2 separate regions of the Homo sapiens genome follow, and region 2 is linked to region 1. Evidence: fine-mapped expression QTL. Tissue or cell type: sun-exposed skin. Region 1 holds a variant in brackets; the other region holds the start of a gene. All regions are shown on one strand. Distances are between the middles of the regions.

What was found. PIP is the estimated chance that this variant, and not a neighbour inherited with it, causes the effect.
Region 2: it holds the start of SULF2, and the variant in region 1 is fine-mapped to the expression of SULF2 in sun-exposed skin (GTEx, PIP above 0.99).

What each region holds. Positions count from the first base shown.
Region 1 is chr20:47,884,461-47,892,713 of GRCh38, forward strand. No RefSeq gene overlaps it. Among named protein-coding and RNA genes, the nearest start is that of LINC01523, 95 kb to the right of the region's middle. The variant T/G (reference allele first, on the strand shown) is at 4,396.
Region 2 is chr20:47,781,641-47,788,076 of GRCh38, forward strand. SULF2 (sulfatase 2) reads right to left here and starts at 3,841. Exons shown (of 21, transcript NM_001387048.1): 1 at 3,703-3,841. It overlaps LOC124904920 (a long non-coding RNA gene), which reads left to right and starts at 4,114. Exons shown (of 2, transcript XR_007067618.1): 1 at 4,114-4,522; 2 at 4,765-5,245. LOC124904921 (a long non-coding RNA gene) reads right to left here. Exons shown (of 3, transcript XR_007067619.1): 3 at 5,700-5,776. RefSeq lists enhancers at 800-859, 4,959-5,128.

The DNA.
Region 1 (8,253 bases):
TTTCAAAGATCAGGAGCCTGTGACCAAATGTTCAGTACTTCTGGAAAACACTTCCATTTATGCTGTCTCTGAATTGGCAGCATTAGGAATGAAAGAGAGATAAATTAGATCATCCAAGATGATTGCTCTGAATGCCCTCCTCAGGAGCTCTTTACAGTGTTACCTCCTAATGTACACTGAAACCGTGCTTGGTGCTGTCCTAGCCAAGGCTAGGGAAAGAAGGGAACTAACCTCCTCAGTTATTGGCCTAAGCATCTCATAACCTACCAGGTAGGGCACAAGATGTTATATCTGTGCCGTTTCCTTTACTGTTACATCAACTTTTGCGGCATCACATGCATTTTGTGGATGAGTAAACTGAAGTCCAGGGAAGTTAAGTAACTTGCCCAAGGTCACCCAGAAAGTATCGGAGCTAGATTTGAATCTATGATGGTCTGCTTCCAAGGGCCAGAGGATTTCAGCTCTACATCAGTTTTATTTTTTCCCAGAGAAACAAGAGAGAAGCTGAGGGCACCATCTGCGGTGGATTCGGGCTGTGGGATTGCTGAATAGTGTCTACATTTGTATTAAGGAGTCATTTTGAGAGAACATTTCGAAGGCTCTCCAATCCATAGCACAGTGTTTTACCATCATTTGTCTCCAGGTGCATTGGGAACCATGTATTCACTCCAGGTGGTTTGAGAGGGAATGTGGCATTGCCCTTTCCTTGTTTCTCAGAATCCTTATTTCCTCTCCTCATTTTGCCCCTTTCTCCACAACGTTCTTTTCAAGACTTTGAGTTTGGGCAAGAATCGGGCAATAGGTTGCATTGTCAGGGGCTTAATGCCTCAGATTTTCTAAGGCAGTCCTGCTTGCCAACCTTCTGTTCCCGGCTCATTTCTGATCTGAGACCCAGGTTGTGTTGGTGGCTTTGGTGACTGCAGAACCACTGCTCTGGAGCCATTCACTCCACAGTGAGGTTGACACCCTGAGTCCCACAGGCCCCCTCTATTGCACCCACACTCTGTTGTGTTGGTGTGGCCAAAGAAGAGGAGGACAGAGAAGCTTCCCCAGAGATCTCTCCATGCTCCTCACAAGTGGTTTTTTTTTTGAGATGGAGTCTGTCACCCAGGCTGGAGTGGAGTGGCATGATCTTGGCTCACTGCAACCTCTGCCTTCTGGATTTAAGCAATTCTCCTGCCTCAGCCTCCCAAGTAGCTGGGATTGCAGGCGCCCGCCACCACGCCGGTTAATTTTTGTATTTTTAGTAGAGATGGGGTTTTGCCATGTTGACTAGGCTGGTCTTGAACTCTGACCTCAGGTGATCTGCCCGCCTCAGCCTCCCCAAGTGCTGGGATTACAGGTGTGAGCCACTGCTCCCGGCCACAAGTGTTCTTGGCTTTGTTTGTCTCTGCATTTGTCTCTGGGGAGGTATCACATTAACTTTCCATGTTTGTGGACTTGTACCTGTAATATGATTACAGTCTATACTTTCTAGAATTTTCTCAGATCCTCCATAGAACGACGTTTTTCGTGGCAGAGATTGTGTCTTCAGTGTGTCCCAACAGAGCTTGATCTGGAACCTCACCCAGAGTAAGCGTGGATTTGAAGCACCAGGGTCTTGGAGATCCTGGAGGGGCTTGGCCCTCTTAGCCAGGCCTGTGTGGTGGGGATGCCGAGGGGAGGAATGATGGATGGGAGAGATCACGTGACAGCACAGGACACTCTCCTGGGGCTAAAACAACTTCAGCGTCTGCTGTTGCAGTTTGGCCAGCCTGGTGGGGATGGAGGTTTGGTGGGAATTTTTTTGTAAGATTCATTAACCTTTTTCTCTTCTTGTTTCCCCCTTTTCTTTTCCTCCATTTTAAGCAGGCAGGCAGTCTTGCTAATGTCAGAAGTTAGGGTTTGGGGTGATGTGAAAGTTAAGGTTAATGTTTAGCAGATAGTCAATCCCCTCGCTCTCTGACTGTGGTTAAAGAACTCATCCCTGCCCCACTGACTTTGGGCTTGGCCATGTGACTTGCTTTGGCCAACAGAATATGAGCGCACATACTGTGAGCAGAGGCCGTGAGTGCACTGCCACGAGAAGCGTGTGTCCTGGGGAGCTGCTGCCTCTTGTGCCCGGGTCTAGAAGAAGTCATGTGTCGTCAATCCAAGCCCAACCCGTAGCCTGGAGCAGAGCTGCCCTTAGACCGCCCCAGATCATCCAAACCTTAGTCACCCTGCAGACTCCAAGTGTGAGGACAGAAGCTCGTGTTATAAGCCATTGAGTTTGGGCGATGGTTTGTTATGCAGCACCACTGTGACAACAGAAGACTGATATGGGTGGTGTCTGCTGGGAGGAACTGGGTGGCAACGGCAAGTGAATCGAAGAAGGCCGAAGTTATTGGCTTTTGCAAAATACTGAACCAGTGAAGAGATTTGCCCAAGTGTCCAGGAGGGTGGGAGCCTTTGGCCAGCAGCCAGGTGGGCCGAGCCTTCTGCAGAGCTGCGCAGGCTTGCTGACGCCTGTGTTTGGACAGTGGTGGAGACCTGGCTGATGCCTGTGTTTGGACAGTGGCGGAGACCTGGCTGAAGCCTGTGTTTGGACAGTGGCGGAGACCTGCATTGCGTTCCCTAGAGTGTCAGGGGTATTGCCAGTCTTGGGCCTCAGACAGAACAGCCTCTACTGCCTGAGGAACCCCTGTTTGCCAGGGATTGGTTTAAGCATCTCCTATGACCTTACTGTACCTCCTCAGCAGGTGGGTGCTGTCACTGGACAGATGAGGAAACTGAGGCATAGAGTGGTTAATCACTGCTCAGGGTTGCACAAGGGATAGGTGGCAACACGTGGCGTGGAGTCTAGGCAGTCCGCTTCTGGATGCTATGCTCATCGTCGCTACACTGCCCGCCCCAGTGCACCTGAGGGACTGCAAGGGCCGAGTGGCATCTCATGATAACCAGGGACTGAGAGCAGAAAGCTTGGCTTCCCTCATTCCCAACGTTAGACCCTGGCAAGGCCTGTGATGTGGACCTCTTCTCAAGTTGGGAGAGGAAGAATGGCTGAGATGGCATTTCCTAGCAGCCCAGGGGGACGGAGGCTGCAGTCACAATGCAGTGGACTTAAAGAAAAGAAAGAGACACAGCCTCTCTTACACCCCGGACTCAGCACAGATGTTCACCCTTGCAGCCCATGGCGTTGGATGGCAGGCTTGATGCCACCTGTCTGGCACAGGCAGCATTTCTGTTGGACTCAGGGACCACAGGCTCTAGGTCCCTGCAGGATCCTTGGACATCACTGGCCACAAAGAAGGGGTCTCCCAGATGTCACATGCAGGTGGCCTTGGGCTGGAGCCAGGGCCAGGGTCTGACCTGGAACTGCAGAAAGCAGTATGTCCTGAGCTTGCTGCTGACTCTGGGGAGGAGGCGCAGCTGGCCACGGAGCTGCCCTGAAGCCGTCGGAGGTGGGGGGACCACGTGGCTGGAGCACAAGATGCACATTTCCTGAGAATACTTTTTCCCCAACACTCCCATTGCTTCATTTTTAAACACCCCACTTAATTCATGTATAGATCTGAAATCACACTGAACGGGAATGTGAGTTTTCTGGGTTTGCCAAAAGGGGACCTGGGTTAGCAGCAGTGGCGAGGGGGCCTGGCCTTGCAGGGGTGAAGGTGAAGGTGTTGGTGAACTCAGCTTCCCTCCTGCATGTCTCGGGAAGATCATTTCCCGGCCCCCATGGTTGAGGAAGAGCAATAAAGAACCAAATCTCCTTTGAAAGGCATTTGACAACATTTAAACTCCGTCAGGCAGCCTAAGGATCATTTTCAATAAATTCATCTTGAGCTAAAGTTTCTGCCTTACTGAATTCATCTTTTGGGAGTGGGTGTTTGTCCCTGCTGCAGATAATTGTGACCCTGGATGGCAGGACCTATGTTCACTGTGAACCAACTTTTCTTGCGAGGGCCCCAAAGACCCCGAGTGTGAATCGCCCGAGTGGGTGGGGTCTCTTGCCCTGTGAGTCCTACTACCAGGGGCCCCATCCTTCCACCCACCTTCCCCCGGGTCTGTTTCCCTTGAGGTCTGAGCTGGGGTGCCCAGTGAGGGGTCATCCCTGCTGTGAGATAAAACCGAGGTGTGACTCCCCATCCCCATGCAGGGCCCTAGAGGTCATGCACGGCTTCAACCATCTGACCGAGGACGGATCTGACTCCCTGCTCAGGGCAGCAGCTCGTGGTTCATTCAGCCCCAGCGGCGTCTCGATGGGGGTAATGTAAGGGGCACAGAGAACCGAGGATTGGGTCTGATGGGATTAAACCCCCAACTGGTGTCCCTGTGTCTTCTCTTTCCTGACACCAGACACCAAGAAGAAACAGCCCCAAGCACATCCGTCAGTGCATTCCGAAGGGTGAGCTGGGGGCCAGGCGGCCTCTGAAG[T/G]CTCCACATGGGTTTTGAGCTTTTGCTTTTTTGCAGCAGCAAATCTGCTCTGGGCTGGGAATTGGTGTTTGCTAAATGCACAGGTGGTCTGGAGTGATGTTTTCCTTCTTTAGCAAAGTAACACATGCTCCTTACAGAGAGTTAGACATGCAAAGAGGCAGGCATGTTTTTTAAGGATAAGTTAAACATTCAGCAGGTTCTCGGGCACTGAGTGAAAGGTGTCCCCACAGGTCAGCCCCTCAGCCCCCCAGTTTCTTCTTGGAGAAGCCAGTGCAGGGCCCCGTGTTGGGGGCCGGTGGGTAGGAGGCTATCTCAAGACACCAGGAGGCGATTAGAGGGTCTCAGTCCATTTTGATACCTGTGCTCGGGAGTCGCTGGCTTGGACTGGACTCCTGGCAGCACCCAGTGAGAAAGGGACAAATCAGGCTGTGACTCTGGCCGTTTTCTCCTCTGCGACTATGATTCCTTTGCTGCACCCCCTCTTTCTGGCCCATCCGCAGAGCACAGACCTATCCTTGCCGGCTGACATTTCTCTGCTCCCTGAGGCTGAGTGTGCCCCCTGGGGATGCTCAGAGAGTGTCCCTGGATTTATTTCAGGGCCCTCACTTCTTGGAGGAGATGTCATTCCCTGCAGAGCTCCATTCACCTGCTCTGAACCCTCCTCATCCTGCCCAAGGACGTGCTCTCTGGTTTGGCTGGAAAGAATGACCCCACCATGCCAACTCTGGGATTCAGGCAAATCAGAGCTGCTGGGCCCAGGCTGCGTTGTCCAGCTGGCCCAGGTGTTTGTACTGAAACACAGCTGTGTGCCCACTGGTTGGTGCAGAGATGCTGTCTCTATCCCTATGGAGACCCTGTACTGGCACCCCAAGATACAGCAGCACAAGGGGCACAATTGCTGGCCCAGCAGAAACCTGGGGACCCTACACTCGAGCTACGGTCAGTGTCCACGATGACTGGCCAGCTGCCAAGTGAACAAGGACAGAGGCGTGGGCAGACGTGCTGTGGCCTCTCAGTGCTGGGTGTGTGAGTGGCCGGAGAGGGCGTCTAGATGCCCCAGGTGTCTTCACACCCAGAACTGGGTCTGCCAGACCCTGATGGCCCCGAGAGTCCTGACCAGACCCCCGAAGGCCAACCCAACATGCTGGGAATGACCATTGGTGCCAAGCGGGCCCTGGGCAGCTGGGGAAGGGCTGTCACCTCAAATGTCCCACTACCTGGCTCCTCCTCTTTCCTCAGGGACCCGAATCTGCCCGCTGGGCACAGGTCCTCACACAAAGCCTGGTCCAGGAAAAACAGGACCACATTGCCAGGCGGCCTGTCCTTCCCCTCCCCACAATCTGTGCTCTAATTACAGAAATGACAGGCTCATGGCCAGAGACGCCAAGTAACAGAGAAAGAGAATAAAGTAGAAAATAAGAATCATTCCCCAACCTACCCCCACACGGAGCTAGCTGCATTTTAAATAACTAAGCTTCTTGATTGTGTCTGTGTGGAGGCCTGAGTTCCTATAACCGAGGCTGTTTTCTCTTTTTTTTTTTTTTTGAGACAGAGTCTCACTTTCTCACCCAGGCTGGAGTGCAGCTGCCCGATATTGCGACCTCTACCTCCTGGGTTCAAGTGATTCTTGTGCCTCAGCTGGGCACCACCATGCCTGCTCATTTTTGTATTTTTAGTAGAGACGGGGGTTTCACCATGTTGGCCAGGCTGGTCTGGAACTCCTGACCTCAGGTCATCTGCCCACCTCAGCCTCCCAAAGTGCTGGGATTACAGGCATGAGCCACCGTGCCCGGCCTTGTCTGTTTTCTCTTCATGAGTGCCCGGTGTCAACGGGAGAAGCAGCACTGGCCTGAGCCTCTAAGCCAAAGCGTCCGGGCACAGCTGGGGACAGGCAACATGGACCCGGTCACTGTGGTCCTAATGGTAGATTGTGGTCCTGGTTGGCATAGGCAGCTCATCACGGTCTCACCTGTAGCTGCTTTATGGAAGGTCTGAATTGGATAGGAGCAGAAAACAGCTTCATTGTTCTCTAGCCGCTGCATTCCAGCAGCTTCTGTGAGGCAGGGGCCAGATTAGGGTGAGTGAGTGAGGCCAAGTCATGCAAATACAGGGTCATATTGTGTCTTAGTTGAAATGTTGTTAACTTTCCCATTAGGGTTTTTTTTTTTTTTGCATTGAATTTAACTTTTTAAAAAAATTCTGCACTAAAATATTATTTATTTTGATCCTGAATTTTTTGGTGCCCCCTTAAATTTTATGCCTCACTTGCTGCACCCTGATAATCCAGAGATGAGCGCCTCCCTCCCCTGCCTCGCCCTAGTCCCCATCCTGCTGATAGGTCTCTGGTCTCTGCTCCTTGATGACATCTGGGGAAGTTTTCCTAGGATTTTGGTCACCTTGATTTATAATAGCAGACTTGCTAATAATGAGTGGAATATGGCCAGGCGCCGGCTCATGTCTGTAATCCCAGCACTTTGGGAGGCCAAGGTGGGCAGATCACTTGAGGTCAGGAGTTCGAGACCAGCATGGTCAACATGGTGAAACCCTGTCTCTACTGAAAATACAAAGATTAGCTGGGTCTAGTGATGGGCGCCCGTAATCCCAGCTACTCAGGAGGCTGAGGCAGGAGAATCACTTGAACCTGGGAGGCGGAGGCTGCAGTGAGCTGAGATCATGCCACTGCACTCCAGCCTGGGAGACAGAGCAAGACTCTGTCTCAAAAAAAACAAAAACAAAAATGAATGGAATAGCTCATGTTTCGGTGTTACAAAATCCAGGCCAGACAAGTCTCAACTTTAATCTCACGCCCAGTTCCTAGGTTAGTCCCTTCTCCAGCTCAAATTCAGCCTAAGCCTCAGGGGTCCTTGGTCGGGGTGGCACCACCTGCTCCCTTCCCCAACTTTGTTCCTGTTTTTAATCTGCTGGGGCTGGGTGCATTCAGAGGTAGGGACAGGCTGAAGGTCTTCGGCTTTTTGGTTCTGTTGATGGGTGAGTTCCAAATACTAGCTTTCTCTTGTAGGATATTTCATTTATTTGTTAAAAATATTTATTTAGAACACACCATTCATGTGCCAGACGCTATTCCAGCCACTGGGGATAGGGTGATAAATGAGATAAACAAAAATACTCGCCCACGTTAAGCTCCTATTCTAGGGAAGAGAGGAAAAAAAAGAAAATACATGTGTACTTAGTACATTAGAAGGTTCCAAGTACTGTTAAAAAAAATAAAGCAGGCTGGACTCAGTGACTCATGTCTGCAATCCCAGAATTTTGGGAGGTGTAGGTGGGCAGATTGCCTGAGCTCAGGAGTTCGAGACCAGCCTGGGCAACACAAAAAAACCCTGTCTCTACAAAACAAAAACAAAACATTTAGCTGGGTGGACAGATTGCTTGAGCTCAGGAGTTCGAGACCAGCCTGGGCAACACAACAAAACCCTGTCTCTACAAAACAAAAACAAAACATTTAGCTGGGTGTGGTGGCATGTGCCTCTGGTCCCAGCCACTGGGGAGGCTGAAGTGGGAGGACTACTTGAGCCTGGGATGCAGAGGTTGGAGTAAGCCAAGATCACAACATTGCACTCCAGCCTGGGTGACAGAGTCAGACCCTGTCTCAAAAAAACAAAACAAAACAAAAAAAAAAACAGGAAAAAGAAAGCAGAGATGGGGACTAGTGGGGAGGGGGCTGGGGATGAGAGCCTCCCTGAGCTTCCACAGTTCTTCCTGCCCCTCTCCTATCTCACTGGGCACGGGCCACCTGGGGCTTCTGGTTGTTTTGTGCCAACTTAATATGTTGTTCTTGCCAACAGTCGGAGGCCAACTGAGGCTTCTCTGTCTTCCACAAGGAACAGCATTGGCCTA
Region 2 (6,436 bases), 100 kb before region 1:
GAAGGCTCACCTGGGTCAGACGCCCTGCTAAGCACTTGACATTGATCATCTCATTTCATGCTTACCACAAGCAGGAGACAGGTGCTATGATCATCATCATTTGTTGGATGTGAACATCAAGGCACAGAAAGGTTAAGTAGCATGCCCCAGATCCCACTGCTGGGCAGGGAGCCAGGCAGTCTGGCTCTCCTAGCCACGGTGCCCACAGCTGCCAGGGACTGCCCGCCCCAGAGCTGGAGAGACATCAGCCTCATGGAAGGCAGAGGAGCGGTGGATAGGAATGGATTCTCATTACAAAATCTGAGCTGTGGGTCCAGCTGTGTCTGAAGCTAGAGTTAGTCACCTTAAGACTTTTGGTTATGAAAACCAGTAAGTCCACTTCTTTTCTCCTTAAGCTGGCTTGAGTTTTTTTCTTCTCTTTTTCCGTTGCTTGCAAGAGAAAGGAACCTGATTACTTTACAGTTCTTCTAGGCAAGTACCCCTAACTGATACTCCATTTGCAACTTGCACACAGCAGCTGCTCAGTAAACACCAGCAGATACGGATGGACTGCTCTCCCTTCCGGTCCATTCACTGCTGGATCTGTACCCTGACACCCAACTGTGGCCAGCCCAGCGCTTCTTCCCCTTTAGGCTCCAAGTGAGGCCTCGTTCCCTAGCAACCACCCCAATTAGGCAACCATGCCATTTATCGGGATGCCAATTAATTATAACGATCTTAATGCCCTCCCAATTAGACAGTGCCTTCAATCCGGCTGGGCCAGGGCTGTCTGTAGATCTCCACCAAGGCCCATTCCAAGGAGGCCCAGAGAAAGCAGGTTTCAGGGAGGGCCCCCTCACCTGCAGATCAGCATTGAGAGAGGCCCCCATCTTCCACATCCGCCCAGGCCTGACACAGAGCACCCTGGCACCACCCCCAGGGCCAGGCCATCGAGACTCCATCACCAACCACAGGAAGGTCTCACCTCTAGGAGAGCTTTTGCTCTCTGGCCACTGTGCTCTGAGTGGGCTGAAATCTTCACCATGGTTCACCTGGCTTTTCCATCAGCTGCATTTGATGTTTCCCTTTGCATTTTGACTGGGGGAGGGGACAGTGTGTCTGCTCATAAGCAGAAGAAAAAGCACCAGGCAGACACATGTTTTCCTTGGGGCAAAAAACCTCAAATACAAACCCGGACTCTCTGTCGGAACAGTGGGGGTTTATGGAAAGTTAAGGGCCTTTTACTTTGCAAAGTTTGACTGTCTGAAGGTGTTTTCTTCCCCTGCATATGTGTTTCTTCTACATCTGGGACAAAGGCCAAGGTCATGGAGGAGAGTCCAGTGGTTCCAAGTGGACCCCGGAGCTTGAGGGCCTCTTGAATCCCAGCTCTACCTGTGACCAGCTGTAGGCAAGTCACAATCCTCTCTGTGCCTGTTTCCTCATCTTTAATATGGCAACAATGGCAGTACTTACTTAACAGGGTATTTGTGTGGATTTAATGAGTAAGGTATAAGGGCTTAGATCAATGCCTCAGATCAGGCCCATACAAAACTACTTAAGTGTTACCAATTATCTTAAGTCTGGACTAAACCTTTTCTTTTAACTACAAGCTGGTCAGAAATGCTGATATTTTTCTGTAGGACAGGGCTTCTGGACTCCTTCTGCAGGACTAAAGTCTAAGGTCAGATAATGGCCAAAGCTTGACAGAGTTGGGTGATATTCTGCCTGGTTAACCCAGCTGCCCTCTTGAGGCAGGTCCAAGCAGATAAACTAACCAGTGCCAGAAAAAGTGAGAAGGAAATGTTATCTCCCAAATCAGGTCCAAATCAGGTGTGAAACTGCATATCAACTGGGTTCTTTGGACAGCAGCTGAACTGGGGGACATGCACGTGCATGCACACACACTGCTATGCTGTCCTCCTCCAAGACCAGACTTTTACAGTCAACTCATCACTCTACTCTCAAGTTTGAAAATTTAACATGTTATTAGGGTTTCAGAAAAAGCCATAAATTCAAATAAAAAACCCAAGAAGTACACACAAAGCCCAAACCCCAAACCCACATTGACCCTCAGCTGCAGCAGTGATGCCAACATCACGGCCTTTATGTATATAAATTTAGCTGGGGAAGGAAGAGGCCTTCATGTACAAAGGTCCAACATGCCATCTGCCAAGCCCACCACCTTCGCCTTTCAAGCTGCTTATTAGAACGCTAAATTACACATCCGACAGGCTGTCTGGATGAGTTTTCTCTTCTCTATGATGTGGGAGAGACGAAGCTGGGGAGAACATCTCTTACAGGGAAGGGGCCCCCTTCGTTCTGTCCTCCCTACCCCGTTCCTATACTTAACGATTGGCTCTAATTTAATTAGAACCCTCTGGTGGTTCTGTAATGGGAGGCAGAGGCTGTCAAGAAATCACCTTCACTATTCACTACAAGCTGAAATTTGGAGAGCGCGCAGATCCGGGGGTGTCCTCCAGAGAAAGCCCGTCTCTCCTGCTCCCTGTCTCCCCCTGAGAACCTGCTCCAGCGCAGCCTCCCCTTCTCTGCCCCAAAAGTGGGGGTGGACCCGGTGGGAAACAGGCAGGGGACAGATGGAGGGGCGAGAGGGCGGGTGTCCCAACACGCACAGATGAGCAAATACCCAGATTGAAACGTAAGCTGAATGTAATTACTTGGTTAATTAAATATTGACTTTTAACTCAAAAAGTGATTAAAACAAGCTGCAGGAAGACTTTCCAGAAAGGGGGGCAGGGAATGAATCAAAGCTTTCAAGGGGGAGGAGGAGGAGGAGAGGGTCGTCACAGGCAGGTCTGGCTTGCTCTTCCTACTGTGTGCTGGGCCTACTGCGTGCAGGTGGGGGAGTTGCGGACCGAGGCCAGTGTGCAAACTAGGATTGCAGGCTTCCCTTTCCATCTTCCACCCCGAGACGGCATCTCTCTACCCTGCTGCCCTCCCAGTGAACCGGCAGCTTCTGGCGCGCAGGAGCCAGATCCTGTTCAGCCGCGTTTCCCTGGAACAGAACGCGGTGCCCGGCACGAGGGGGTGCTCCAGAAATGCTTGTAGAACGAATGAACGAACTACTATAAGGAATGTTTGGAAAAGTGCACTCCTAGAATTCACCGCTAGACTTCTGAAACCCCGAGGAGCCGGGGAGGGGAGCATCCCTCCGCCAGGCGATGGAAACTCGTTCTGCCCTGGCCTGGGAGGAAGTCTGCCTTTTCGATCCTGTTTGTCCTTTCGGTGTCTGCGAGTTTCCAACCACTCTGAAGATCCGGCCCACTGCTTCCCCGAGTCCTGCCCGGACAAGCCCCACGTGGGCTGGCATCTACCGGTCCCTTGGGTCTAAACCCTAAGGGTCAACAAGGCCATGCCCCTGCGGATGGCCGGCCCAGGCGCGCTCCCCTACCCGGGGCCGCCTGTGCTCGGTGTGCCGTGTCCGCGGGTCAGGGGCGCGGCGGGAAGTCCTCGCCCGCCCGCCAGCCAGCGGGGTCAAACAGGTCATCCCTCTGCGGACGGCCGGCGCCGGAGCCTCCCTCCCGCCCGCCCGGACCCACCTCCGCAAGCAGCGCTGGGGCTGGAGCCGGGCGGTCCGGACCAGCCCCGGCTCACCTGGGCGGCGCTCGCGGCCGGGCTCACGCCGGGGAAGGCTCCGGCCGCCGCGAGCCCCCGCCCGAGCCCCGCGTCCCCCAGCCACCCACCTGCCCCCCACGCCCCACTCACCAGCGCGCACGGCCCCGGCAACCTCACCCGGAGCGGGGCGCCGCCGCCGCCTCTGCCGCAGCCCGGCCGGGCCGCTGGGCGCAGGGGACTCCGCGCCGCCGCTGCCGCTGCCGCCGCCGCCGCCGCCGCTGCCGCTGCTGCATCCCCCGGCGAGCGCTGCTGCTCCTCCTCCTGCCTCCTCCCCGCCCCCCAACGCCGCCGCCACCGCCCCCGGCCCCCTCCCCGCGCGCCGCCCCAGCCAAAGTCCGGCTCCGCACCCCGCCCGGACCGCTCTTAAATCGCCCCAGCCCGGCCGGCCACGCTGCCCCAGCCAGCCCCTTGGCACGGCGCTACCGCCCCCCGCTCGCCTGCCCGCCGGCCTCCACGCAGGGGAGGCGGGCGCGCTCCGGGGCGGGGAGCGTCGGGCCGGGAGCCGCGGACGGCTGGGGCCCGGGGCGCGGGGGGCCCAGCCGCGGTGCCCTCCTCGAGCCCTCCGCGCGCTAGCGCTTTTACCTCCGGCCTGGGGGACGCGCGGCCCGCGACCCGGCCCTGCCTGTCCCCGGCGCACGGCCCCGGCCCCGGCCCCGAAGTCCAGCTCCGGACGGGGCAGTGAACGCAGAGCTGGGGTCCCGGCGGCTCTCGACCTCCCGATGCCTCCGGACTCGGCTGGCCGCGCTCCCGGCGCCGAGCGCGCACCCTCGCCGGGACACACAGACGCACACTCACTCGACACACTCTCGCTCCTGCTCGCCCTCGGCGGAGAGTTGAAACAGATGTGGGATTCGCCCAGGAGCTGGAAACGAGGGAGGGAAGCGAGCCAGAGCCTTGTGTGCACGTGTGTGTGCGTAACACACAAACCAGGGGGCATCGCTAATAAATCAAATATCGTGATAAATTCAGGAGGGCCATCGATCAGGTCCACTTGGCTGGAAACGACGTGAATCTGCCTCTTTTCCGCTTTCTTCTTCTCCTCTCTCGGAGCTGGAGGGAGCCAAATGTTCCGCGGGGAGTGCGACAGCCCCGGCCGGGCGCTCCCCTCGTAATGACACGTTAATAAATGTTTTCTTTTATCTGCTTTCACAGGACTCGCCCCGGTCTGCAAACACTCGACTGCCTTTGCCGAAAGCCTCGCGCTCGCCTCCAGCCACACACATTTGCCATTGGAGAGGCCGGCGCCGGCCGCGACCCGCAGCTCAATCGCAGGGCAAACCGAGCTGCCTGTGCGCGCCCGAGAACTCCCCGAGAAATTAACTTCGGCTCAAGTGAAAATAGCAGCTGTTGTCCAGAAATGGCCCGGGAGTAGCATAGAAAGGAGAAACCGGCTTCCTCCGAAAGGGGAGGAATTGGACTCAAGGGGGTGCTGTCTACCGTGGTTTCCGCTGTCCCTCGCGCCACAGAAGAGGCCGGAGGGGGACCGGCCTGACGCGGGTGGGCAAAGAGCGGGCAGAGAACTCACCAGCAGCTGCAGAAAACACAGCCGAGTTGCTAGCTAAGGGGAAACAGACGCCGCTGTGGGAAAGCACTTGTAAACAGCAGTAACTTATTAAATCTTGTGACAATCTCACACAGTAAGTTACTATGCCCGTTTTACCATGGAAACCAAGAGAGGTTTAGTAACTGTCCGAAGATCACACAGTTATAAGTGGTGGATCCTGTGAAGCCAAGAAGCCTTAGCTCCCGGCTCATGCTCTTAAATCCTAGGATGTTTTTACTTTTCAACCTAGCATCTCCTTTCTCTGATATGATCCTCCATGGTAGAGTTGTCAGACTTAACAAATAAATATAGACATCCACGGGGAGGAAGTTAGTACTAAAAAATCATTCATTTTTAAATCTGAAATTCAAATCGGATCTCCTGACTGGGTTTGGAGCTCTAGGCTCCTCCCCATAACCTCTGTTAGCCACGCCAATCAAGTTAGAGCCTAAATAAATCAGAAAAACCTTGCACTTGCTTTTCCAAGTCAGGTGCTGGCCCTACCTTTGGCATCACTGATAAGGCTGAACAGCTCCCACCTTCTTTGCCCTGGGACAGAATGTCAGGCTTCACCATCATAGACCGAAAAATAATGGAGACCCCTCTCCTTCCGCCTCATCTCTGCAGAAGGACATATATATCATTTAGAATTTTCTAGTAGTGGCATTAGAAAGTAAAAAGAAACAGGTGAGGGCCGGGCACAGTGGCTCACGCCTGTAATCCCAGCAGTATGGAAGGCCGAGGTGGGCGGATCACTTGAGTTCAGGAGTTCCAGACCAGCATGGGCAACATGGTGAAACTCCATCTTTACAAGAAATACAAAAATTAGGCTGGGCATAGTGGCATGTGCCTGTGGTCCCAGCTACTCGGGAGGCTCATGTGGGAGGATCACTTTGAGCCTGGGAGGTGAAGGCTGCAGTGAGCCATGATTGTTCCACTGTACTCCAGCCTGGGTGACAGTCAGACCCTGTCTGAAAAAAGCAGGTGAAATTAATTTTAATATTAATAATATAGTTTACTTAACCTAGTATATCCAAAATCGATCTCTTCAACATGTAATCAATATAAAATTAATGAGATATTTTTACATTATTTTTTCTTACTAAGTTTTGTAATCTGGTGTACATTCTAAACTTACAGCACATCTCAATTGGGACCAGCCACATGTGGCTCAGGGGTCCCATGCTGGACAGTGCAACTCTGGCAGGTTCTGCGGTCAATGGCTGTTTCCACCGGGTCATTTCATGTAATCCTCCTGACAATCTTTCAAGCAAACTGATG